Homo sapiens: one gene and its partners. The gene in region 1 interacts genetically with each later gene. Each region holds a gene or a part of one and is shown in the gene's direction. Other genes may lie near its edges.

Evidence for each region.
Region 2: changes in LIAS (region 1) and SEH1L together harm fitness less than expected from each alone (positive genetic interaction), as found in Homo sapiens cells (one large-scale study listed by BioGRID).
Region 3: changes in LIAS (region 1) and RPLP2 together harm fitness less than expected from each alone (positive genetic interaction), as found in Homo sapiens cells (one large-scale study listed by BioGRID).
Region 4: changes in LIAS (region 1) and HSCB together harm fitness more than expected from each alone (negative genetic interaction), as found in Homo sapiens cells (one large-scale study listed by BioGRID).

What each region holds. Positions count from the first base shown.
Region 1 is NC_000004.12:39,473,526-39,481,728, forward strand, and holds the end of LIAS (lipoyl synthase, mitochondrial isoform 1 precursor), read left to right. Parts: intron 1-3,537; coding exon 3,538-3,590; 3' UTR 3,591-5,981; downstream 5,982-8,203. UniProt on the Homo sapiens protein: Catalyzes the radical-mediated insertion of two sulfur atoms into the C-6 and C-8 positions of the octanoyl moiety bound to the lipoyl domains of lipoate-dependent enzymes, thereby converting the octanoylated domains into lipoylated derivatives.
Region 2 is NC_000018.10:12,952,454-12,960,205, forward strand, and holds part of SEH1L (nucleoporin SEH1), read left to right. Parts: intron 1-3,009; coding exon 3,010-3,156; intron 3,157-7,752. UniProt on the Homo sapiens protein: Component of the Nup107-160 subcomplex of the nuclear pore complex (NPC). The Nup107-160 subcomplex is required for the assembly of a functional NPC.
Region 3 is NC_000011.10:806,847-815,050, forward strand, and holds RPLP2 (large ribosomal subunit protein P2), read left to right. Parts: upstream 1-3,120; 5' UTR 3,121-3,193; intron 3,194-3,387; 5' UTR 3,388-3,388; coding exon 3,389-3,511; intron 3,512-4,750; coding exon 4,751-4,799; intron 4,800-4,834; exon of another isoform or gene 4,835-4,968; intron 4,969-5,688; coding exon 5,689-5,787; intron 5,788-5,913; coding exon 5,914-5,990; 3' UTR 5,991-6,030; downstream 6,031-8,204. Other genes in the region: PIDD1 (p53-induced death domain-containing protein 1), read right to left, coding at 2,101-2,106. UniProt on the Homo sapiens protein: Plays an important role in the elongation step of protein synthesis.
Region 4 is NC_000022.11:28,748,539-28,752,038, forward strand, and holds part of HSCB (iron-sulfur cluster co-chaperone protein HscB isoform 1 precursor), read left to right. Parts: intron 1-2,702; coding exon 2,703-2,750; intron 2,751-3,500.

The sequences.
Region 1 (8,203 bases):
ACAGAGCATGTCAAGCATCTAATAGGGTTTTCTGAGAAATACATATTTATTTGGAAATGATGCCAGCTGCATCTCCAGACTCAGTTTCAATCAGTTTAAGCACTGAAAAGTATCTTATTTGATAGCATTGCTTGCATCATTAAATTTCTTTGTATTTTTCCCCCAGAGGCAACAGAAAAATATCCATAAGATTATTTTTCTCCGTAGGAACGTTTAGTTGTTTTACTAGCTACAATGCAAATTTTTTTTACTTTTGGAATTTCAGCTCTTATTTTAATCAATAGCTTGAATTGATTTATGAAAAGAAAATCATTTTCCAAGGGATAAAAAGTCATGTGATAATGATTGTCGGAGGATCCAAAAGAACATATCTGAAGACCGAATTTAATCTAGAAAGTGTTTATGATGTCCCTGTCAGTTGGACTTAACAATTATAATGATTAAGAATAAATTGGCTGGCCAGGTGGGGTGGCTCACACCTGTAATCCCAGCACTTTGGGAGGCTGAGGCGGGCAAATCACGAGGTCAGGAGATCGAGACCATCCTGGCTAACACGGTGAAACCCTCTCCACTAAAAATACAAAAAAATTAGCCGGGCATGGTGGCGGGCACCTGCAGTCCCAGCTACTCGGGAGGCTGAGGCAGCAGAATGGCATGAACCCAGGAGGCCGAGCTTGCAGTGAGCCGAGATTGTGCCACTGCACTCCAGCCTGGGCAACAGAGCAAGACTCTGTCTCAAAAAAAAAAAAAAAAAAAGAATAAATAGGCCAGGCAAGGTGGCTCATGCCTGTAATCCCAGCACTTTGGAAGGCAGTTGGATTACTTGAGCCTAGGAGTTCAAGGATGCAGTGAGCTATGATCGTGTCACTACAGCTCCAGCCTGGGTGACAGAGCAAGACACTGTGTCTCAAAAATAAAATAAAAAAAAGAAACAGCTAGGCCAGGTGTGGTGGTGTGTGCCTATAGTCCCAACTTCTTGGGAGACCGAGGCAGGAGGATCGCATGGGCCCAGGAGTTCAAATACAGCCTGAGCAACATTGTGAGATCTCATCTCTTTATTTTTTATTTTATTATTATTATTTTTTTTTTAGATGCAGTCTCTCTCCATCGCCCAGGCTGGAGTGCAGTGGCACAATCTTGACTCACTGCAACCTCTGCCTCTCAGGTTCACGGCATTCTCCTGCCTCAGCCTCCTGAGTAGCTGGGACTACAGGTGCCCGCCACCACGCCTGGCTAATTTTTTGTATTTTTAGTAGAGACGGGGTTTCACCGTGTTAGCCAGGATGACCTCGATCTCCTGACCTTGTGATCCGCCCACCTGGGCCTCCCAAAGTGCTGGGATTACAGGTGTGAGCCACCGCACCCGGCTGACCTTGTCTCTTTAAAAATAAACTAGGTATTGGCCAGGCGTGGTGGCTAATGCCTGAAATCCCAACACTTTGGGAGGCCGAGGTGGGCAGATCACAAGGTCAAGAGATTGAGATCATCCTGGCCAACATGGTGAAACCCCATCTCTACTAAAAATACAAAAATTAGCTGGGCATGGTGCTGCGCACCTGTAGTCCCAGCTACTCGGGAGGCTGAGGCAAGAGAATAGCTTGAACCTGGGAGGCAGAGGTTGCAGTGAGCCAAGATCCTGCCACTCCACTCCAGCCTGGCGAAAGAGCAACACTCTGTCTCCAAAAGAAAAAATATATATACAAAAATTAGCCGGGCATGGTGGTGTGTGCCTGTAGTCCCAGCTACTTGGGAGGCTGAGGCAGGAAAATTGCTTGAACCCGAGAGACAGAGGTTGTGGTGAGCCAAGATCATGCCACTGCACTCCAGTCTGGGCAACAGAGCAAGACTCTGTCTCAAAAATAAATAAATAAGTAAATAAATAAATAAACTAGGTATTTTTTTTTTTTATCTAAAGTGGTGATGTTTTAAATGATTGCTTTATATATTGGGGTCTAAATCTTAAATATGTTTAAATTAGACAAATTCTATTTGAAAAAATTAATGCTCCAGTATTAGTAATATTCTGTATGTTCCTAGTTCCTATAAAGACATTTAAGGCCGGGTGCAGTGGCTCACGCCTGTACTCCTAGCACTTTGGGAGGCCGAGGCGGGTGGATCACTTGAGCCCAGGAGTTCAAGACCAGCCTGGGCAACATGGCAAAACCCCATCTCTACAAAAATACAAAAATTAGCTGGGTGGCTGAGTTGCTGGGTGGTGGTGGGCACCTCTAGTTCTAGCTACCCAGGAGGTTGAGGTGGGAGGATCACCTGAGCCCAGGAGGTTGAGGCTGCAGTGAGCTGTGATCGTGCCACTGCACTCCAGCCTGGGTGACAGAATGAGACCCCGTCTCAAAAATAAATAAATAAAAATAGTAATTTAAAACATTTTAATGAACTAGTAGCTCATCATAGTTTGAAAACCCAAGAATTTGATTCAGCACTGAGTGACAGAATGTGGGGACTTTGAAAACCAGTAATTGTAAGTGATTTAGTCTTCAAGCAGCACTGCTGGCAAGCTAAAAATACATGTGAAGGATAGAACCACTATCAGCTTCTAGAATGGTTAGAGTAATGTCCTTTGAAAGGAGTTTTTCTTTTGCTAAAGAAAAATTTCTAACATAAAAGGAAGTAAATTATGAACTTTCTGATGCTTTCTAAATTACCAGGAAAAGATCAGATTCTGGTATATGATGAGCATTAGACTAAAATGATGGATTAGGGTCTGATAAAGTTGGTGCTACTCCCACGACATTTGGAGGAGGTATGGAGCAGCATGGATTACTTGGCTGGGTTATGAGCCTTGGGATTTGCAGAGATTATATGTAGATAGACTCATCACAGTTCTACTCATATGTAAGATGACAAAGAGAAGTTAATCAGACTCCTCATAAAATCAGGCCTCTAGTGCTGCACTCTACCAATAAGCATTGAGTCATGCTGTAAGAGCAATAGACTAAATGGAACACTAATGGCCTAAAAAGAGAATGTGCCCTCTAAGCTGCTAACTTATTGCGTAGGCACAACTCAGGCGGTGGGGAGAAAGCCCATTACAAATGAAGAGCTCTTGCTTCCCTAGAGGGGAATAAGCTAAAGAGATTCCATCAGATGCGTCTGCTCAGCTGCAACGAGATCTGTTTTATAAACATCAGATCCAGCCTAATAATGTAGCAAAATTGCTCTTGGAAATGAATTTTGCCAAGAGCAATACTTTGACAGTGATGAGGGATAGATAGTGCACATAAAGTAGAATTAATGTGCAGACCCATATATACAGTAGGGTCACCCTTTGTAATATTGGCTTACTAGAAAGAATAATAGTAGGAGACTCTAGTCATTATTGCTGGGGAGAAAGGCCAAAGATAATAGGGGATATTTAGGTTAGAAAAATATTGCCATTGAGGTTTGAGAAGAGAGAAGTGCCAATAAATACAAAAGTCTTCTTTAAAGGGGGAACACCAAAAATATAATTCTGAAATAGTTGTCTCACTGTTATTTACTTTAAATTGATATTAATGTGTTTTCCTTTTTCCTAAATAGGTGAATTTTTCCTGAAAAATCTAGTGGCTAAAAGAAAAACAAAAGACCTCTAAAACTTCAACAAGACCTTCAAGATCACAGAAATTTTTAAAATTTGATTCCAGTTAATAACAGAGGTGGTGCCAGAATGCCTGGACTGCAGTGGATGTGCCCCACCTCTTTGCTTAAAAAAAAAAATGTCAATAGCCAGGCATAGTGGCTCACGCCTGTAATCCCAGCACTTTAGGAGGCCAAGGCGGGTGGATCACCTGAGGTCAGGAGTTCGAGACCAGCCTGGCCAACATGGTGAAATCCTGTCTCCACTAAAAACACAAAAATTAGTCAGGCGTGGTAGTGGGTGCCTGTAATCCCAGCTACTCGGGAGGCTAAGGCAGGAGAATCACTTGAACCTGGGAGGGGGAGGTTGCAGTGAGCCAAGATCGCTCCATTGCCCTCCAGCCTGGGTGACAAGAGCAAAACTCCATCTCAAATAAATAAAAAGGAAAAAAAAGTCAATAAACTGTACAAATTTAATTACAGTAATTCATTTGGCTTTTAGTGTATCTTCTTTGTCCCAATTAAACAGTTGCTTGCTGTGATGTAATCTTAAAATATCTTTGTAAGAATTTTCTTTTAACATAATTTTAAAATGCATTAAAAACATGGCATGGTGGCTCACACCTATAATCCCAACATTTTGGGAGGCCAGGGCGGGTGGATCACTTGAACCCAGGAGTTCGAGACCAGCCTGGGCAACATGATGAGACCTTATCTCTACAAAAAATTAGCCAGACGTGGTGGCACGCACCCGTAGTCCCAGCTACTCAGGCTGAGGTGAGAGGATCACTTGAACCTGGAAAGCAGAGGTTGCAATGAGCTGAGGTGGTGCCACTGCTCTCCAGCCTGGGCGCTACAACTGCTCTCCAGACTCTGTCTTGAAAAAAAAACCCAAAAACTTCCAGAAGATTTTCCAATCCACTGTTAACATCATTACATTTCATTTATGAAAAATAAAAACTTCATTTATGTTACTGTGATGAAACAGTCAACATAGATTGAAACTCATCAGTTTAGCATTTCATTCAACTTTAGCATTCATTCAACGTAGATTGAAACTCATCAGATTAGCATTTGTCCTTGTAATATTGGAATAATTTAGAAAGGCTTAAGAGTGAATGTTGGCCAGATGTGGTGGCTCATGCCTGTAATTCCAGCACTCTGAGAGGCCGAGGTGGGCAGATCACCTGAGGTCGGGAGTTTGAGAACAGCCTGGCCAACCTGGTGAAACTCCATTGCTACTAAAAATAAAAAAATTAGCTAGGTGTGTTGGCAGGTGCCTGTAATCCCAGCTACTTGGGAGGCTGAGGCACGAGAATTACTTGAGCCTGTGAAGCAGAGATTGCAGTGAGGCGATATCGTGCCACTGCACTCCAGCCCGGGCAACAGAGTGAGACTGTCTCAAAAAAAAAGTAAATGTTGATTTTTTACATTGGTGTGACTACTTCAGAACCTGCAAAATAGTTTTATGCTGATTACATTTAGTCCCTCTGAAAACACCAAGGCCATAATGCTGCCTAAGACATGGAAATAGAACCTAGAAATATTAACCCTTATTTGTATAGTAGCTTGCTAAATCCACATGCCCTATTCCTTTCATTTCTCACATTGGTTGTATTATATGATGGTAAAGGCCTGAGAAAGGAATTTCCTTCCAAAATACTAATAACTCAGATTCATCTTTTGACTGAATCCTGCCTTTCTACTTTTTCTGCATATCTAAAAGGACACTTTTAGGTGGCCATGTTGTAAAATATGTAAAGTGGATAGCCAATTCTGTTTTGAATTCTTATAACGAGCCAGTATTATAAAAGTAATGCACATCCTTGCCAGGTGTGGTGGCTCACGCCTGTAATCCCACCACCTTGGGAGGCTGAGGCGGGTGAATCAGTTGAGCTCAGGAGTTTGAGACTAGCCTGGGCAACACAGTCAGACCCCCATCTCTACCAAAAATACAAAAAATTAGCTGGGTGTGGTGGCACATGCTTGTAATCTCAGCTATTTGGGAGGCTGAGGCAGGAGAATCACTTGAACCTGACAGGCAGAGGTTGCAGTGAGCTGAGATCACATCACTGTACTCCAGCCTGGGTGACAGAGACCGTGTCTCAAAAAAAATTTTTTTAAGTAATGCATGGGCCGGGCATGGTGGCTTAATGCCTGTAATTCCAACGTTTTGGGAGGCCGAGGCAGGTGGATCACCTGAGGTCAGGAGTTTGAGACCAGCCTGAACAACATGGTGAAACACTGTCTCTACTAAAAATTAAAAAATTAGCCAAGTGTGGTGGCGCATGTCTGTAATCCCAGCTACTCAGGAGGCTGAGACAGGAGAATCCTTGAACCTGGGAGGCAGAGGTTGCAGTGAGCTGAGATCACACCATTGCACTCCAGCCTGGACAACGAGTGAAACTCCTCAAAAAAAAAAAAAAAAAAAAGTAATGTATGTCTTTATAGATGCTAGTAAATTTTGGGATGCAAATTTAACCCTACCAACTTTCTTTTGTTTTGAGACAGTCTCACTCTGTCAGGCTAGAGTGCAGTGGCGCGATCTCAACTCACTGCAACCTCTGCCTCCTGGGTTCAAGTGATCCTCCTGCGTCAGCCTCCCAAGTAGCTGGGATTACAGGCGCACACCATCACGCCCAGCTAATTTTTGTATTTTTAGTAGAGATGGGGTTTTGCCGTGTTGGCCAGGCTGGTCTCAAACTCTAGGCCTCAAACGATCTGACCGCCTTGGCCTCCCAAAATGTTGGGATTTGTGAGCCACCACCGGGCCTAACCCTACCAACTTAAAATAGAAACATCTCAAGCTACCTTAACTTATTTTACAGGAAAAAAATGGATTACTTTTCAGGCTAATTTTGTGACATTTCTAGATATTATCTAATAGTTAGGCCCTTTGCACAGTGTAGGCCAATGGCAGGTAAACATTTGTTAGCAGGAGACTCATTTGGTGAAATAAAATTCTCAGCCGGCGCGGTGGCTCACGCCTATAATCTCAACACTTTGGGAGGCCGTTGCGGGCGGATCACCTGATATCAGGAATTGACACCAGCCTGGCCAACATGGCAAAACCCCATCTCTACTAAAAATATAAAAAATTAGCTGGGTGTGGTGGCACGTGCCTGTGGCACTGAGGAGGCTGAGGCACAAGAATCGCTTGAATCCAGGAAGCAGAGGTTGCGGTGAGCCGAAAATGCACCACTGCACTCCAGCATGGGCAACACAGTGAGACTGTTGTCTCAAAAAAAATAAATGAATAGGCCGCGCTCCCGCCCAGGGAGGATGCGCCGACGCCCCGAGCGCCCGGCCCTCCGCAGCAGCCCGGCAGACTGCCTCTGTCATCAGGACCCTCCGTCCACGTCCCCTGTGCGGCCAGCGTCAGAGCCATGGCGATGGAGGAGAGGAAGCCCGAGACCGAGGCAACGAGAGCACAGCCGACCCCTTCGTCATCCACCACTCAGAGCAAGCCTACGCCCGTGAAGCCAAACTATGCTCTCTAAAGTTCACCCTTGCTGGCCACACCAAAGCAGTGTCCTCCGTGAAATTCAGCCCGAATGGAGAGTGGCTGGCAAGTTCATCTGCTGATAAACTCATTAAAATTTGGGGGACTCATATGATGGGAAATTTGAGAAAACCGTCTGGTCACAGCCTGGTCGTCAGATTCTAACCTTTTTGTTTCCGCCTCAGATGACAAAACCTTGAAGATACGGGACGTGAGCTCGGGAAAGTGTCTGAAAACCCTGAAGGGACACAGTAATTATGTCTTTTGCTGTAACTTCAATCCCCAGTCCAGCCTTACTGTCTCAGGATCCTTTGATGAAAGTGTGAGGATATGGGTTGTGAAAACAGGGAAGTGCCACAAGACTGCTAGCTCACTCCGATCCAGTCTCGGCCATTCATTTTAATCGTGATGGATTCTTGATAGTTTCAAGTAGCTATGATGGTCTCTGTCACATCTGGGACACAGCCTCAGGCCAGTGCCTGAAAACGCTCACTGATGATGACAACCCCTGGTGTCTTTCGTGAAGCTCTCCCCGAAGGGTGGATACATCGTGGCTGCCACGCTGGGCAACACTCAAGCTCTGGGACTACAGCAAGGGGAAGTGCCTGAAGACATACACTGGCCACAAGAACGAGAAATACTGCATATTTGCTAATTTCTCTGTTACTGGCGGGAAGTGGATTGTGTCTGGCTCGGAGGATAACCTTCTTTACATCTGGAAACTTCAGACGAAAGAGATTGTACAGAAATTAGAAGGCCACACAGATGTTGTGACCTCAACAGCTTGTCACCCAACAGAAAACATCATCACCTCTGCCGCGCTAGAAAATGACAAAACAATTAAACTGTGGAAGAGTGACTGTTAAGTCCCTTTGCTCCCACATGCGATAGACCATCAGGAAGTTGACCCGGATTGGCAAGAAACATGATGTCTCGGAGGCGGTCCCCTGGGTCTGTGCCTGGGGGTCAGGACCGGGCCTGATTTGAGCCTCCTTTTTGAAGATGATTTGGCCGAGTGTGGACCACCGGAAAGTTCTAAAAGTTGCTGGTGACATTTCTTGCCAATTCTCTAACACTGTCTAGGGAAGAGTTCCTAGTCTGTTGTGTTCAAACAGAGTCAACAAAAAT
Region 2 (7,752 bases), on another chromosome or scaffold:
AACTCCTGACCTCAGGTGATCCTCCCTCGGCCTCCCAAAGTGCTGGGTTTATAGGCATGAGCCACTGTGCCCGGCCAAGTAGAAATTTTCATACCTTAAAAGTCATCCATTTTAAATGTACAGTTCAGTGAGTTTTAGTAAACTTACATAGTTGTGTAGTCATCACTGTAATCCAGTTTTAGAACTTTTCTCTCAAACTCAGAAATTCCTTTGTATCCTATTCCCACTCCAAGCCCCAGGCAACCACTGATCCATTTTCTGTCTCCATAGGTTTCTTCTCTCCTCTGCCCTCCCTCTCCCCTCCCCTCCCACCCTCTCTTCTCTTCTTTTCTTTTTTTTTTTTTTTGAGCTGGCGTCTTGCTCTGTCGCCCAGGCTGGAGTGCAGTGGTGCGATGTTGGCTCGTTGCAACCTCTGCCTCCTGGGTTCAAGCGATTCTCCTGCCTCAGCCTCCTGAGTAGCTGGGATTACAGGCGCATGCCACCACACCCGGCTAATTTTTGTAGTTTTGGTAGAGACAGGGTTTCACTATGTTGACCAGGCTGGTCTCGAACTCCTGACCTCAAGTGATCCGCCCGCCTTGGCCTTCCAAAGTGCTGGGATTACAGGCTTGAGCCACCATGCCTGGCCTGGTTTATCCTTTCTAGAAATTTCATAGAAATGGAATTTTGAAATACATAGTCCTTTGTGTCTGGCCACTTTCCCTTTGCATGTTTTGAGGTTCATCCATATTGTGTCATGTGTCAATTTGTTCCTTTGATACTGAGTAGTCCGTTGTATGTATATTGCCACGTTTTGTTTGTCTGTTCACCAGTTGACGGACATTTGAGTTGTTGTTTTTGGCTGTTATGAGTAATGTTAAGAACGTGCCATGTAAGTCTGTGTAGACATATATTTTCATTTCTTTTGGATAGATGCGTAGGAGTGGAATTGATGGGCTATATGCACTTAGCTTTCTAAGAAACTGCGAAACTCTTCCAAAGTGGCTGTGCCCACCAGCCATGTGTGAGGTTCCAGTTTCTCTACATCCTCACCTACACTCGATAATATCTGTCTTTTTTATTATAGCCATTTTAGTAGTTGAGAAGTGACCACAAAAATCATTGGATTTTGATTTGTATTTCCTTAATACCTCATGTTGATTATTTTTTCATATGCTTATTTACCATTCATGTATCTTCTTTTGTGAAAGGTCTATCCAAGGTCCCCCCCCCTTTTAAGGTGAGGTTAACTTATAAAATTAATAATTTCAGAGTAAACAATTAATTGGCATTTACTTCATTTACAGTGTTGTGTAACTACCACCTTTTTCTAGTTCTAAAACATTTTTATTATTCCAAAAGGAAACCCCATCTCTTGCTTTTAAGCCTAATATATTTCATATGTACTTTTCTATATCTTTAAAGGCTTTTTATTAACAGCCAATAAATATACCATTTTGCTTAACTAGTGGATATTTCAGTTTCCATTTTATTGTGATGAGCATCTTTGTGCAAACCTTATTCTTTAGATTGCATTTTACTGTAAATCTAATAAAACTTATCTGCCTTAGTGTGCATTTTTAATTTTATAGCCCTGTATAAGTAAGAATTAAAGATGATACAGAAAAGACTGGACAAAACAAGGTTAAAAAAAAAGGGTGCAAAATGTACCTTTAGTTGGTGACATTGTTACCATGTAGAAGTTATTGGTTAAACTATTTTTATGTTGTTGAATGTAAAAAATGTTAGCTATACAGTGTGAAACACATTTTCTGAATGTTATTTGTTATTATACAGTATTTTCCCTGAGAAGCACCTAGCAAATTCTTTTGATGGTGAAATTCTTTAAGACCTTTGTATCCCTTCTCCAGCCACCTCCCCTCCCACCCCTTGGCCAACAGGAGGGGTGTAAGGATTTGGGCTTCCCCATATTTGCTCTTCCTACAATAGTCTGTTATCGATAGACTGTATTGTCAGTTAAAATCATTTAAGCATTCTATGGCTATAATCTCTATATATTGTTAGACTTTTGAAGCAAATAATTTTTTTTTGGAGACAAGTTCTTGCTCTGTCACCCAGGCTGGAGTGCAGTGGCACAATCTTGGCTTACTGCAGCCTCAACCTTCCAGGCTGAAGTGATCCTCCCACCTCAGCCTCCCAAGCAGCTGGGACCGTAAGTGCATACCACCACACCTGACTAATTTTTTGTATTTTTTGTAGTGATGGCATTTTGCCATATTGCCCAGACTGGTCTTGAACCCCTGGGCTCAAGCAGTCTGCCCACCTCAGCCCCCTAAAGGGCTGAGAAGACAGGCGTGAGCCACTATGCCTGGTTGAATCAAATGAAAAAAAAGTATTTTTTTGATTGAGCTATAATTTACATATCATAATGTGCACCCATTTAAAGTGTACAATTTAGTGATTTTAAGTATATTCATTTAATTGGCAACCACCACCACTTCTAATTTCAGAACATTGTTTACCACCTCTAAAGGAAACCCTGTGCTCATTTAGCAGTCACTTCTTGTTTACTCTGCTCCCAGCCGCTGGTAACCACTAATCTACTTTCTGTCTGTATGGATTTTGGAGCAAATAAATCTAATGTTATTTATTTTATTAGGTGGGTATTTTCTGTAGAAAGAATTTGCAAGTAAAATGGTGGACTTACAGAATCTTTGTTTCAAAGGTTGGTTACGCTAAACTCTGAAGCAACTCTCCAACTATCAGCACTGGAAGTAGTCAAGTTTATCTGGCTAGATTTTTCTTTTATTAGTAAAATGTCAGAAGAACTGGACTTCAGAAGCATTACAATCCTAAATATAGAATGTCTTCTAAAGGTTAAAACATTCTGGAATTTAACTTTTTATTTACATGTTATGTTGATCAGTTTTCTTCTCTCATAGAAGTAAAACTATATTCTGTTTCCTGATGTAAAACCAGTGTTTATGAAATATGAATAAGTATTTAGGAAAAAAGAAGCCCTGGGATAATGAGTATCTGTTCTTTTCTTTTTTTTTTTTGATTCCCCAGACACATAGTGGATCTGTATGGCGTGTGACATGGGCCCATCCTGAATTTGGGCAGGTTTTGGCTTCCTGTTCTTTTGACCGAACAGCTGCTGTATGGGAAGAAATAGTAGGAGAATCAAATGATAAACTGCGAGGACAGAGCCACTGGGTGAGACATTTATTAGTATTCTGGGGACCGGGAAGACATGAGCAGCCAAGGAGCATTCATCCGAAGGCTACCTCAGATAATTGGTAAAATATCACCACTCCCCTCTAGTTTTACCAGTTCTAAAGTTCTTTCTTCCATGTTTTTTTCTTCCTTTTTTATTTCATTTTAACTTGGGTCTGAAGCAATACTTAGGAGCATCACTGCATTGTTTATAACTTTTATGATGAATCCAGAATATTTGCATTGTATTTGATTTTACCTATTAGTATATTTTATGATAGTAATATATGATTTTAAAGTATTCTGGCTCACTGCAGTCTCAAACTCCTGGCCCCACCTCAGCCTCCTGAGTTGCTGAGATTATAGGCATGAGCCACTGTGCCTAACTCTAAAATTCTTTTTTTTTTTTAACTTTAAACTCTTAAGGGTTAATAAAATTCTTTTTTTTTTTTTTAGACGGAGTCTCACTGTGTCACCCAGGCTGGAGTGCAGTGGCACAATCTTGGCTCACTGCAAGCTCCGCCTCCCGGGTTCACGCCATTCTCCTACCTCAGCCTCCTGAGTAGCTGGGACTACAGGCGCCCGCCACCACGCCCATCTAATTTTTTGCATTTTTAGTAGAGACGGGGTTTCACTGTGCTAGCCAGGATGGTCTCGATCTCCTGACCTCGTGATCTGCCTGTCGGCCTCCCAAAGTGCTGGGATTACAGGCGTGAGCCACCACGCCTGGCCAAGGGTTAATAAAATTCTTTAAATTTTATTTAAATTTAAATAAATTTAATGGGCCAAATTCAGGATGGGCCCATGTCACACGCCATACAGATCCACTGTGTGTCTGGGGAATCAAAAAAAAAAAAAGAAAAGAACAGATACTCATTATCCCAGGGCTTCTTTTTTCCTAAATACTTATTCATATTTCATAAACACTGGTTTTACATCAGGAAACAGAATATAGTTTTACTTCTATGAGAGAAGAAAACTGATCAACATAACATGTAAATAAAAAGTTAAATTCCAGAATGTTTTAACCTTTAGAAGACATTCTATATTTAGGATTGTAATGCTTCTGAAGTCCAGTTCTTCTGACATTTTACTAATAAAAGAAAAATCTAGCCAGATAAACTTGACTACTTCCAGTGCTGATAGTTGGAGAGTTGCTTCAGAGTTTAGCGTAACCAACCTTTGAAACAAAGATTCTGTAAGTCCACCATTTTACTTGCAAATTCTTTCTACAGAAAATACCCACCTAATAAAATAAATAACATGGCTAACATGGTGAAACCCTGTCTCTACTAAAAATACAAAAAATTAGCCCGGCATGGTGGTGGGTGCCTGTAAGTCCCAGCTACTCTGGAGGCTGAGGCAGGAGAATGGTGTGAACCCGGGAGGCGGAGCTTGCAGTGAGCCGAGATCACGCCACTGCACTCCAGCCTGGGCGACGGAGCGAGACTTGTCTCAAAAAAAAAAAAAATTCTATAAAAATTGTTTCTTTTGTTTTGTGGTTACTTTTGTTTTCTTAGGAAATATACTGTCCTCGGCCGGGTGCGGTGGCTCACGCCTATAATCCCAGCACTTTAGGAGGCCAAAATGGACAGATCACCTGAGGTCAGGAGTTTGAGACCAGCCTGACCAACATGGAGAAACTCCCCCTCTACTAAAAATACAAAAATTAGCTGAGCATGGTGGCACATGCCTGTAATCCCAGCTACTCAGGAGGCTGAGGCAGGAGAATCGCTTGAACCCGGGAGGCGGAGGTTGTGATGAGCAGAGATCGTGCCATTGCACTCCAGCCTGGGGAACAAGAGCGAGACTTCGTCTCAAAAAAAAAAAAATACACTCTCCTTTATCTACATCTGCTTTTATCGCTGTCTTTGCCTTATTGGATGTTTGAATTTGGGCAAGAACATAATATAATCTGTGTGCTGTTGAAGTTCCTCATCTATAAAGTGAAAACATTGAACTAGATTATATTTAAGACTCTTTCCAGCATTTTCATATGAAGGTATTATCATCTGCATGCTTTTTTTCCCCCTTTATGATTTGTTTTTTGTAATAGATAATCATGCACATGGTGTAAAATTCAAAAGAAACAAAAGGAAGTGTGTAGTGGGAGTGTCCTGCTATTACCCCTCACCTGCCCTCCCTAATGGCATGATACTACGTTAGAGCCAGTCACAGCTCATTGCAGTCTCAACCTCCTGGGCTCAAGTGATCCTCCCACCTTAGCCCCACAAGTAGCTGGGATCACAGGCATGCACCACAGGCTGATTTTTTTATTTTGTAGAGATGGGGTTTCACCATGTTGCCCAGGCTGGTCTTGAACTCCTGGACTGAAGCAATCCTCTCACCTCGGCCTCCCAAAGTGCTGTGATTATAGGCGTGAGCCACTACGAGGGCCATGATGCAATTTTTTATTGTGGTAAAATATGTATAACATAATATTCCTCATTTTAACTTTTTTTTTTTTTTTTTTTTTTTTTTTTTTTTTTTTTGAGACAGAGTCTTGTTCTGTCACCCAGGCTGGAGTGCAGTGGTGGGATCTCGGCTTACTGCATTCTCCGCCTCCGGGGTTCAAGCGATTTTCCTGCCTCAGTCTCCTGAGTAGCTGGGACTACAGGCATGTGCCACCATGCCTGGCTAATTTTTTTGTGTTTTTAGAAGAGACAGGGTTTCACCATGTTGGTCAGGCTGGTCACGAACTCCTGATCTCAAATGATTCTCCTGCCTTGGCCTCCTGAAGTGCTGGGATTACAGGCGTGAGCCACCATGCCTGGCCCATTTTAACTATTTGTAAATGGTATAATTCAGTAGAATTAATTACGTTCACAGTGCTGTGTACCCATCACTGTTATCTGTACTCAAAACTGTTCATCACTGCCAACATAAACTCCATATTTTTAAAGAATGCCTCCCCCTTCCTCCTCCCTCTACCCCCTATTCAACTGTCTGTCTATAAATTTGACTAGGTACTGCATGTAAGTGGAATCACAGTATTTGTCCATTTGCAACTGGCTTATTTCACTAAGTAAAATGTTTTCATGGTCTGTCCATTTTGTAGCATATATTAACTTTATTCCTTTTTATGGCTGAGTAATATTCCATTGTGTGTGTATACCACATTTTGTTTATCCATTCATTTGTAGATGGACCCTTGGGTTGTTTCTACTTCGTGGCTATTGTGAATACTGCTACTATGAGCATTGTTGTACAGATAAATGTTTGAGACCGTGCTTTCGATTCTTTTGGAAATATACCTAGGAGTAGAATTGCTGGCTCATATGGTAGTTCTATGTTTCACGTTTTTAGGAACTGTCAGACTTTTCCATAGCAGCTACACCATTTTACATTCCTACCAGCAATGCTCAAGGGTTCCAGTTTTTCCAAATCTTCATCAGCACTTGTTGTGGTGCTATTTATTGTAGCCATCCTAGTGACTGTGTTGTGAAGTGGCATCTCCATTGTGGTTCTGATTTGCATTTCTCTAATAATTACTGATGTTGACCTTATTTTCATGTGCTTATTGGTCAATTGTATGTCTTCCTGGGGAAAATACTATTCATATCCTTTGCCCATTTTTTTAAATTGGGTTTTTTGTTGTTATAGGAGTTCTTTATATATTCTGGATATTAATCCCTTATCTGTTATAGGTTGAGTATTCCTTATCCATAATGCTAGGATCCAGAAATGTTTTGGATTTTGGATTTTGGATTTTGCAATATTTGCATTTATACTTACCAGTTAAGCATTCGCCTACTTATTTATTTACTTAATAGAGTTGCCCAGGCTGGTCTTGAACTCCTGGGTTCAAGCGATCCTCCACCTTGGCCCCCCAGAGTGCTGGGATTACAGGTGTGAGCCACCGTGGCCAGCCCCAGTTAAGCATTCTAAATCCAAAAACTTGAAATTCGGTATGCTTCAATAAGCATTTTCTTTGAGCATCATGCCAGTGCTCAAAAAGTTTTGGAGTTTGGAGCATTTCAGATTTCAGATTTTTGGATTTGATATGCACAACCTGTAAATGATTTGCAAATATTTTCTCCCGTTCTGTGGGTTGCCTTTTTCACTCTTGATGGTTTCCTTTGATGCACGAAATTTTAAAATTTTGAAGTCTAGTTTATCTAAATTTTTTTCTTTTGTTTCCCATGCTTTTGGTGTTATATCCAGGAAAGCATTGCCAAATCCAGTGTCATGAAGACTTTCCCCAATGTTTTCTTCTAAGATTGTTATAGAATCCTCAATTCAGGCTTGTATCCCCAATGTGGAGCTGAGAGCAAACACTGAGTCACCGGTACTTGGAGATAGAGAAAGGTTTATTCGATTTGGCTAAAGCAAGAAGATGGGAGGGCAAGATCTCTCGAATCCATCTAAACAAAAGGAAGCATTGGGTAGATTTTATGTGACTAGATCTAGTAAGGGAGGGGGAGTTTCACAGAATCCAGTGGAAAAGTCTGTGTTTCTTTGGTCTCAGGTAACGCCTTGAGCAACCAGATGTCTGGTTGTTAGCAGCTGGTCACAGTGTCCTTAAAGCCATTCATTTCTTCTGGCAACATTTTTCTTTACATGACGCTGAAGTTATCTTCTCTTGATTGACAAAGA
Region 3 (8,204 bases), on another chromosome or scaffold:
TGCTGGGATTACAGGTTTGAGCCACCGCACCCGGCCAAGAGATCTTTTTAAAAACCAACCACAGGCCTGATGCTGTGGCTTACGCCAGTAATCCCAACATTTTGTGAGGCTGAGGTGGGCGCATCACTTGAGGTCAGGAGTTCAAGCCCAGTCTGGCCAATATGGTGAAACCGTGTGTCTATTAAAAATACAAAAATTACCCAGGTGTGGTGGCAGGCGCCTGTAATCCCAGCTACTGGGGAGGCTGAGGCACGAGAATGGCTTGAACGCGGGAGGCGGAGGTTGCGGTGAGCTGAGATCTCGGCACTGCACTCCAGCTTGGGTGAGAGTGAGACTCCCTCTCAAAAAAAAAAAAAAAAACAGGCTGGGCGCTGTGGCTCGCATCTGTAATTCCAGCACTTTGGGAGGCCGAGGCGGGTGGATCAGGTCAGGAGATCGAGACCATCCTGGCTAACAAGGTGAAACCCTGTCTCTACTAAAAAATTAGCTGGGCGTGGTGGCGGGCGCCTGTAGTCCCAGCTACTCGGGAGGCTGAGGCAGGAGAATGGTGTGAACCCGGGAGGCGGAGCTTGCAGTGAGCTGAGATTGCGCCACTGCACTCCAGCCTGGGCTACAGAGCAATACTCCGTCTCAAAAAAATAAAAAAATAGGCCGGGCGTGGTGGCTCACGCCTCTAATCCCAGCACTTTGGGAGGCCGAGGAGGGTAGATCACGAGGTCAGGAGATCGAGACCATCTTGGCTAACACGGTGAAACCCCGTCTCCACTAAAAACACAAAAACTTAGCCGGGCGCGGTAGCAGGCGCCTGTAGTCCCAGCTACTTGGGAGGCTGAAGCAGGAGAGTGGCATGAACCTGGGAGGCAGAGGTTGCAGTGAGCCAAGATCACGCGACTGCACTCCAGCCTGGGCGGCAGAGCAAGACTCAGTCTCAAAAATAAATAAATAAATAGAATCCACTTATAACTGCTGCTCCTCAAAGTGTAAATTCAGGGCAACTTGAATCTATGTTCCCAGGACGCAATCCTCAAGCCTGGCCCACATAAACTACTCTGTATTTATATTAAATTTGTCTTAGCATCTACCTTTTAGGTAGGTACTTGAAATCTGAAAATACACTGAATGAAAAAAGCCAGACACAAAAGGCAAAATACTGTATTATTTCAGTCTTACGGGGTGCTACAGTTGTCAAAATCATAGGAAGAGAAAGTAGAATGTGTTTATCAAGGGTGGGGGAGCAGGGAATAGGGACTTTAATAGGTACAGAGTTTGTTTGGGATAATAAAAAAAAAGTGAGATGGGGCTGGGCACAGTGGCTCGTGCCTGTAATCCCAGCACTTTGGGAGGCGGAAGTGGGAAGATCACTTGAAGTCAGGAGTTTGAGACCAGCCTGGCCAACATGGTGAAACCCCGTCTGTACTAAAAATACAAAAATTAGCCGGGCATGGTAGTGGGTGCCTGTAATCCCAGCTACTCAGGAGACTGAGGCAGGAGAATCGCTTGAACCCAGGAGGCAGAGGTTGCAGTGAGCCAAGATCTCACCAGTGCACTCCAACCTGGGGAACAGTGGGACTCCTCAGAAAAAAAGAAAAAAAAAAGTTGGGGCCGGGCGCGGTAGCTCACGCCTGTAATCCCAGCACTTTGGGAGGCCCAGGTGGGAGGATCGCTTGAGCCCATGTTGGACAACGCTGTCTCTACCAAAAAATTTTAGCCGGGTGTGGTGGCACACGCCTGTGGTCTCCGCTAGGAGGCTGAGGTGGGAGGATCACCTGAGCCCAGGAAGTTGAGGCTGCAGCGAGCTGTGATCGAGCCACTGCACTCCAGGCTGGGCGACAGAATGGGGCCCAGTCTCAAAAATTACAAAATAAGAAAAGTCCCATTGTTCCCAAGATGGTTTCCCGCCTTTACCCCAGATGTGTGACCCTGAGCAAAAAAACCTTTCTGTACCCAACTGCCTCATCTATAAAATGGGGGTAATGATAACGAGGCCACAGAAGGCGACTGTGAAGTCGAGTTCCAGTGCTTGACGTATACACACCCCAGGGTTTGCACTGCTGTTAGAGCCCAACGGGAGCTGGCGCTGCCTGCTAACACGGTAGATACCTGCATCTGACCCTGTTCCTGGTGCTCGCCCGGGATATTGGCAGGGATGGCTCCTTCTCATCTCTCAGCTCAAGCTTTCTCAGGCTGCCCAGAGGACCAAGTCTCCCTCTGTCCCTGTCCTTCGGATCGCCTCCCTATTCACCTCCTGCGTCCTCGCACAAGAACTCAAGTCCTTAGGAGGCAGGGCCAACCCTGTTCCCTCCCAGGACCCGAGAATGTAGCGGGGTCCCTGAGGTGCTGATGTCCACATGGACACCGAGGTCAGTTCCGGGCCAAAGCGGCCAGCGCAGGGGCTGACCACTCAGACCTCACTCCTCGCAGGGGTGAGCGGGCGACGCTGCCTCACGTCATTGTCCTGCCCTCCAAGGCCCGCGCTCGTCCTCTGACAGGATGCCCTGACACCGCAGTGCGGGGGCGGCCTCCCAGATAGGGCCGCAGTCGCTAAGTCCGAGGCGGCTGGCTCACCTCACTGAGCCCGGCTGGACGTGGGACCACCGGTCGCCGCGGCCAGGGAACCACCAAGGAGTCAAGGCGAGCCTACCGCCAGCAGCTTCTGCCCGGGCCCACGCGCCGTTCCGGGTAGGCCCGCGGCGCAGGCCACTTCCGGCAGCGGTGCACCATGGGACTTGCAGTTCGCTGGCAAAGGTTGAGTCCCGGGCGTGGCGGCCGCGCTCCATGTTGGGAGCTGTAGGCGCCGCGTGGCATGCTGGGGGTGCTAGGTACCGAAGGCAGATGCCGTCCCTTTGGACTCGCTTCGTCCAACGCCCCCACGAGTTTCGGTGGCCCTTCGCCCCACGCTATAAGAGCAGTCACTTCCGGAACTGCTGCCCTTCGCCTTTGCCGCGAAAAGTGCCTGACGGGGGCTGGGAAGGGGGAGGGGGAAGGAGTCAACGACTCCCTCCCCGTCGTCATTGGCTGAGCGCCTCGTGACGTCACTCTGAGGCGCCTCATGCGGCGCCGCGCACGGGTCCCAGAGCCTTCTGGGTAGCGGTTTAACCCCGCCTCTTGCGTCGGCGCCTTCCTTTTCCTCCCTGTCGCCACCGAGGTCGCACGCGTGAGACTTCTCCGCCGCCTCCGCCGCAGACGCCGCCGCGTGAGTGTGGTGACCGGGCCCGGGGTGCCGGCTGGGGACGCGGAGTCCGTGGGGATGCGGGGTGGGCGGCGGGGTATTTTTGGGACGGAGGCCTACGGGCCGAGCCACGCGCGGCCTCGCCCGGCGGCCCCGGGATGGGCCGGCAGGAGGCCGCCGGGGTAACTCCGCCGTCGCGTCCTCTCCGCCCGCCTCAGGATGCGCTACGTCGCCTCCTACCTGCTGGCTGCCCTAGGGGGCAACTCCTCCCCCAGCGCCAAGGACATCAAGAAGATCTTGGACAGCGTGGGTATCGAGGCGGACGACGACCGGCTCAACAAGGTAGCGGCCGCCCTTGCCCCGCAGCCGCCGTGGGGCCCCAGTGTCCCATACAGGCGATTCTTCTGCCTGATCCGGCCACATGCTGGAGGGTTCGGGGAGAGGCTCGTTTCAGTCTAGTTGGCGATTTCTTGGATAGAGAAGTAAGCCGGGCGGAGGTCGGGCGCGGTGGCTCACGCCTGTAGTCCCAGTACTTTGGGAGGACGAGGCAGGCGGATCACCTGAGGTCAGGGGTTCGAGACCAGCCTGGTAAACATGTCGAAACCCCATCCCTACTAAAAATACAAAAATTAGCCGGGCGTGGTGGTGGGTGCCTGTAGTCCCCCTACTTGGGAGGCTGAGGCAGGAAAATCGCTCGAACCCGGGAGATGGAGGTTGCACGGATCGTGCCACTGTACTCCAGTCTGGGTGGCAGAAGGAGACCCTGTCTCAAAAGGAAAAAAAAAAAAAAAAGCAGGGTGGGTACGAGGCAAAATCGTGATTAACAAGCTTTGGAAGTTTAATACCAGTGAGCTGCGTAAGATTGCGTTAAAAAAAAAAAAAAGCAGTCCTGGCGCATGGCTCACCCGGCTTTGGGAGGCCATGGCGAGTGGATTATTGGAGCCTTGAAGTTCGAGACTGGTCTGGAAAACATTGCAAGACCCGGTCTCCACAAAAAAAAAAAAAAAAAAAAATGGTTGGAGGCAGTGGTGCACATCTGTAGTCTCAGCTACTCATGAGGCTGATGCGGGAGAATCATTTGAGCCTTAGAGGTCAAGGCTGCACTGAGTAGTGATTGTGCCACTGCAGTCTAACAGAACCAGGCCTCGTCTCTAAAATACAATAAAAAATTAGCCAGGCTTGGTTGCTCATGCCTGTAGTCCCAGACTGAGGTGGGATAGTCACTTGAGCCCGGGAGGTCAAGGCTGCAGTGAGATCCTACCACTGCACTCCAGCCTGAAGTCAAAGTCAATTTCATTGCCAGTTTATTTTGCCAGTGTTGAAGATACCTATGAGTAGTCAACATAAGTAGTGAGATGCCCTGTGTCCTTTTGTCAGTCCTAAGTCTAAGAAAGCTAGTGTCCATTTATTTTTATATCACTTCCCAAGTGAGGCTGGTGGCTCCCTTTGGGCAGTGCAGTTCTGGAAACTTCAGGGCCTATTCCCATGTGGGGAACCCAGTCCTGCTGTGACTCTGGGAGGGAGAGGGCCGGGGATACAATCGTACATTCCTGGTAACAGCCCTGTGATTGTCTGCTTCAGGTTATCAGTGAGCTGAATGGAAAAAACATTGAAGACGTCATTGCCCAGGGTGAGTTGATGTGGACGGGCTTTCGTTTGTTTTCATGGTCCATCCTAATCCCTGCCGGTCCATCTGTGGCCTGCCAGGTTTCGCTTGTGGACCAGAGCACCCTAGAAGCCTCACCCGAGGAGTGAGCAGGGCTCCAGTGGGCTCACGTCATGGGCACTTCTAGACACTCTCAGGAGCAGGGCAGCAGGGGGCACCCTGTGTTCTCAGCAGACGTTTAGGTGGCCCTGCCTCTTAAGCCTGACTGCTCCTAGCCCTGAGGCCATTCCCCAGGATTTGTCTGAAGCTTGGTGTCTGGAGAACTGAGTTCACGTCAGCAGTCCTTACCACATGCTTTCTGTGAGGGGGTTGGGGGCAGGGACTGAGGGTGCCAGGGATGTCCATAGGCTCCTTGCCTCTTTGTTGGGCAGATGGTTTTTTGTTGGCTTCAGCTGAGCTGGTGGAACTTGTTTGGAAGTTGAGCTGTTGGGGCAGCTGTTCTTGTCTTCCATGCATGTGACCACGACAGGGCCAGCTCAGCAAACGGGCCAAGCCATGAACACAGCGTTGTGGCCAGAGATGTGGATACTGGGGCAGCACACTCATTCCCTACCTAGTTATGAACATGTCTGTCCAGTGGACCTCTGAGGGTGGAGGTGGGGAAATTGGGCAGGCAGGCAGTGTGGGCCTAATTCCTAGAAGGCAAGTCCCTGGATAGGAAAGGTGGGGAAGAGAAGTCCCCGTTGAGGAGTGGCTCAGGGAGGGAGTGTTCAGGAAGAACGGGAGACACTGGCATATGGTGGGTCCAGATATGTTGGGTGCCATGTGCCATCTCTGGTGCCATCTAACTTCCCTGTGGAACAGCCTCCCAGGCTGGGCAGCTGCTCTGGTCTCACCTCTCTGCTTTCTGTAGGTATTGGCAAGCTTGCCAGTGTACCTGCTGGTGGGGCTGTAGCCGTCTCTGCTGCCCCAGGCTCTGCAGCCCCTGCTGCTGGTTCTGCCCCTGCTGCAGGTAAGTGGTGGCCTGGTGAGTGGGCAAGGGGCTGGGGCTCAGACGGTGTTGCTGCAGTGGGGTCTTCATGGGGGGACTGGCCTGGCACTTGGGCAGTGCTCACCATGCCTCTCCTCTGTTCCACAGCAGAGGAGAAGAAAGATGAGAAGAAGGAGGAGTCTGAAGAGTCAGATGATGACATGGGATTTGGCCTTTTTGATTAAATTCCTGCTCCCCTGCAAATAAAGCCTTTTTACACATCTCTCAAGTATTCCATGAGCACTTTGTCAAGGGTGGCCTCTGCCCAGGTTCTTATCCAAGAGGGCAGGTGTGGAGCTGAAGTGTGGGCAACATGGTATTGGGGAAGCGTTTCTGGTGCAAAATGAGCATGAGGAGGGGAGTCTGGGCATCACAGCTGCCTGGGGTCCCTTCCTGTGGCCTTGAGCAGTATCCTAGCTCCTGAGTACACCCCAGAAGAATGCGAACGGGCTGGGCACAGTAGCTCGTGCCCATTATCCCAGCACTTTGGGAGGCCGAGGAGGGAAGATCACTTGAGGCCAGCAGTTTGAGACCAGCCTGGGCAAATAGCAAGACCCCATCTCTAAAAAACAACCTAACAAGGCGTGGTGTGCACCTGTAGTCCCAACTATGGGAAGTTGAGATGGAAGGATCACTTGCCCAGGAGGTTGAAGTTAACAGTGGGCCGTGATAGTGCCACTGCACTCCATCCTGAGCAGCAGAAACCCTGTCTTGAAAAAAAAGGACAGCAGAGAAGCTGATTTCAATGGAGTTTGGGTAATCAGGGCTCTGTCTTTGGGGTGGCTTGGTGCCTGGACTTGCAAGGACAGGATTGGTAGCCCCTGGGCTCTACAAATGGATGCAGGAAGTGAGCCCAGCTTGGGGGTGGCAGACGCCCCTGGGTTTCCCTGCAGGGGTCATGGCTCCGCCATAATGCCCTGAGCAACTTGGGCAATCACTCCTCAGGCTTGTTTTTTTGCCGATCACAGCCCACCCCTGCCTTACTGGGCAGATGTGCTCAGGGCTTGTGGGAAGTGACCACAGGGCCATGTGCTCACTGAACTAGGTCCTTTGGGGATGGGCCTGCCCTCCCCCGACAGGCTCTGTCCTGGAATACAGGGCTAAGGACAGAGGCCATCACCCTCCCCTCCCAGCCTCTCTGCCCTCCTGGCCTTACTCCGTACGCAGTCTCCCAGGCCTCAGGGTCTTTGCCCGCCAACGTAGGCACCCAGAAGATGGTCTGCCACTCCCACCCTAGGCTTGGGGTCAGCAACCCACCCGCTGGCTTTGGTGTGGGGAGCACCTGCTGTGTGACCACCTTAGTTCTGGGAGGATAAATAGGCTATAGCACAGAAGACAGTTGGGGTGGCTGGGGGAGGCCTCCCTCAGATGGGAAGGCAAGACCTGGAGGAAGGCAGAGTCCCTGGAGGGGAAGGAATGTGGATTGTTGGAGCCAGGGAGCCACAGAAAGTACTGAGATGGAGGGGGACCCAAGATGCTTTTTATTTATTTTGTTTTTTTTCTTTTTGAGATGGACTTTTGCTCTTGTTACCCAGGCTGGAGTGCAAGTGGCACACTCTCCACTCACTGCAACCTGCGCCTCTCTGGTTCAAGTGATTCTCCTGCCTCAGCCTCCTGAGTAGCTGGGACTACAGGTGCCTGCCACCAGTCCCAGCTAATTTTTTGTATTTTTAGAAAAGATGGGGTTTCACCATGTTGGCCAGGCTGGTCTGGAACTCCTGACCTCAGGTGATCCGCCCGCCTTGGCCTCCCAAAATGCTGGGATTACAGGCATGAGCCACTGCGCCTAGCCTTTCTTCTTTCTTTCTTTTTTTTTTTTTTTTGAGACAGAGTCTCGCTCTGTCGCCCAGGCTGGAGTGCAGTGGCGCCATCTCACTGCAAGCTCCGCCTCCCGGGTTCACGCCACTCTCCTGCCTCAGCCTCCAGAGTAGCTGGGACTACAGGCGCCCGCTACCACGCCCACCTAATTTTTTGTATTTTTTTTTTTTTTAGTAGAGATGGGGTTTCACTGTGTTAGCCAGGATGGTCTCGATCTCCTGACTTCGTGATCTGCCCGCCTCGGCCTCCCAAACTGCTGGGATTACAGGCGTGAGCCACCGCGCCCGGCTACCTTATTTATTTATTTTTTCCAGACGTGATCTCACTCTGTCGCCCAGGCTGGCGTGCAGTGGCATGATCTCGGCTCACTGCAACCTCCACCTCCCAGGTTCAAGTAATTCTTCACCTCAACCTCCAGAGTAGCTGGGACTACAGGTGCCCACCACCACGCCCGGCTAATTTTTGTATTTTTTTTTTTAGTAGAGACGGGGTTTCACCGTGTTAGCCAGGATGGTCTCGATCTCCTGATTTCGTGATCTGCCCACCTCGGCCTCCCAAAGTGCTGGGATTTCAGGCATTAT
Region 4 (3,500 bases), on another chromosome or scaffold:
GTCTTGCTCTGTTGCCCAGGCTGGAGTGCACTGGCATGATCTCGGCTCACTGCAACCTCCGCCTCCCAGGTTCCAGCTATTCTCCTGCCTCTGCCTCCCAAGTAGCTGGGACTACAGGTGCGTGCCACCATGCTTGGCTAATTTTTCTATTTTTTTTAAGTAGTGACGGGGTTTTACCATGTTGCCCAGGCTGGTCTCAAACTCCTGACCTCAGGTGATCCATCCATCTCAGCCTCCCAAAGTGCTGGGATTACAGGTGTGAGCCACCAAGCCCGGCCAAAACCCAAATCTAATCACTACTCTTGGCCTTATTTCAATTGACCAGGTGTGATGGCTTACGCCTGTAATCCAAGCACTTTGGGAGGCTGAAGTGGAAGGATCACTTGAGCCCAGGAGTTCAAGACTAGCCTAGTCAACATAGCAAGACCCCCATCTCCATTAAAAATTTAAAAATTAACCAGATGTGGTGGCGCATGCCTGTAGTCCCTGCTACTCGAGAGGCTGAAGCAGAAGGATCACTTGAGCCCAGGAGGTGGAGACTGCAGTGAACCGTGTTTGCACCATTGCACTCCAGTTTCAGCAACAGAGCGAAAACACGTCTCAAAGAAAAAAAAAAAAAACTTTTAAGTGGCTTCTCACTGCTCTAAAACTCTTTAGCATCCCTTACAGGGCCCGGATGCCGTGGCCTCTGCTTCTCTCTGTTTTGCCTTCTCCACTCCAGCCACAATGACCACTTCCAGTTCCTCATCTATACTGGGCACCCTCCTACCCTAGGGCCTGTTGCTTCTGCCTGAAACCCTCCTCTCCTCCGCCCCATTTAAGTTAACCCCTCCTTCTTCAGATCTGAAGGCAATCATCACTTCCTCAGAGAAGCCTTTTTAAGCTATCTATTAGTAGTGGCTATTTCTTTTGTAGGACTAATCACAGTTATAACTTTACTGTTCTATGTGACATTAATTGATCAATATCAGCCTCCCTCATTAGACTGGAAGTTCTGCAGGAGAAATCATGTCTACTTTTTGCTTCCCTCACATCCTCAGCTCACAGAAAAGTACTTATAGTTTAAAAGGAACTTGGTATTTACTAAATGAGCAAACAGTAATGAGAAAAGATGTTTAAAGCAGTAATATAGAATTTGTGGTGAGGGGACCGTCAGCTTGGAGATATGTTCACAGCATTAGGACTGGGTTGTAGGGATAAGAGAAACTCAGGAGTTGCAGTCAGTGGGCTCAGCTGCCCAATTTTAGACGTCAGGGCAGCATGAAGATCTGGAGTGAGGGCAGCGTGCTACTGACTTTGCGTGACCTTGAACAAATGACTTCATTCCTCTGAGCCTCAATTTCCTCATCTGTACGTGGAGATAATATTAGTACTGGTGGTTGTGGGGATCAAGTTAAATGAGATAAAGCACGTAAAAGCATGTATTCTAGGCCAGGTTTGGTGTCTTATGCCTATAATCCCATTACTTTGGGAGGCTGAGATGGGCAGATTACCTGAGGTCAGGAGTTCAAGACCACCCTGACCAACATGGCAAAACCCTGTCTCTACTAAAAATACAAAATTAGCCGGGCATGGTGGCACACACCTATAATCCCAGCAACTTCAGAGGCTGAGGCAGGAGAATTGCTTGAACTCAGGAGGTGGAGGTTGCAGTGAGCCGAGATCGCACCATTGCACTACAGCCTGGGCAACAAGAGCGAAACTGTCTCAAAAAAAAAAAAAAAAAAAAAAAAAAAAACACTTATTCTAGCCCTATAGTAAACATTTGACTTTGAGCAGCTCACTGACCTTAATTTAGATTAATTCCTAAATTTTCTCCTGTAAGGTATCTGCTATGGCCCAGGTAAAATTAATGTTCAAGGGCATAGAGCTAGTTAATTTTAGGGTCAGGGCTTAAGAACCTCCAGGTTCCTAGTCTGTTGTTCTTTTGTGGACACCACACTGCTACCTGAGAGATGAGTTTCAAACACCGGACTGGGAGTCAAGTGACTTGGATTCTGTTCCCAGCTCTTCCACTCATCACCCATGGGACAATTCCCCCAATACCTGTCATTTCCTGCCTTACGGATATAATGTATTTGACAGTGCTTCGAAAGACGACACCATATAAATAACTGACACTATTTATATCTGGAAAATGAGATTACTGGAAAATTCCTCATTTTCTAACAAGGAAACGAGAAATATGAGATAGCTGCTGCTTTATTTTGTTTGGCATCTTCTCCCTTATGACACAACATGATGTAAATGTTTTCATTTTCCTGAGAGGCTATACAGTTTGCAAGTGGTTGCCGGAAACACTCAGTAATGCTTTACTGATAGGTGTTCCCAGCATGTTAATGTTCTCCTTGCTGAAATGTCGAAGACCCAAACTGTTTCGTGGAGATAATCAAAGTATATCTTTGTCTTTTTTTTTTTTTTTTTTTTTTTTACTGATTCTATAGCCATTTTATAAGCCTTGGTGATTGCTCCTTAGACCTTTCATGGTTGGAAAAACAGTGTTATTAGGGTAAACCAGAGTTGTGCTAAACAGCAGCTGCCATCATGGTACACACAGAGACAAAGGTTATGAAGCCTTACCCTTGAATACAAACTTCCTCCTTTGTTGTGTTCAAACCAGCATGATTACAAAGTTTAAGTATTGTCTTCATATTATGAGTCTATTTCAATGGAAAAATTAACAGAATGGTTTTCTTTTTCAGCTAAACAGAAAGAATTTACTGACAATGTGAGCAGTGCTTTTGAACAAGGTACTTTCTTTTCTTCACTTTCTTAAATATGGAAAGAAATTTCAAGCACTGAAGCATAGCCATTCATTCAATAACTAGCTATTATATACCTTCCTATGATAGCTATATAGGGAGATATGAAATACTTATGAGTCTACATTTCTGTCTTTAAAAAAATGCCTTTAAGAATCTACATTTCTGGCCAGGCACGGTGGCTAATGCCTGTAATCCCAACACTGGGAGGCTAAGGCGGGCGGATCACGAAGTCAGGAGATTGAGACCATCCTGGCTAACACGGTGAAACTCTGTCTCTACTAAAAATACAAAATTAACTGGGTGTGGTGGCACAACGCCTGTAGTCCCAGCTACTTGGGAGGCTGAGGCAGGAGAATCGCTTGAACCAGGGAGGCGGAAGTTGGAGTGAGCTGAGATCGTGCCACTGCACGCCAGCCTGAGTGACAGAGCGAGACTCCATCTCAAAAAAAAAAAAAAAATCAACATTTCTGCCTTTCTAGAGAAACAAACTATATCAAAAAAGTGATCTGGGAACAGTGACTCACGCCTGTTATCCCAACACTTTGGGAGGGTGAGGTGGGCAGATCACTTGAGGTTAGGGGTTTGAGACCAGCCTGGCCAACATGGTGAAACTCCAGCTCTACTAAAAATACAAAAATTAACTGAGTGTGGTGGCATGTGCCTACAGTCCCAGCTACTCAAGAGGCTGAGGCCAGGAGAATTGCTTGAACCAGGGAGGCTGAGGTTGCAGTGAGC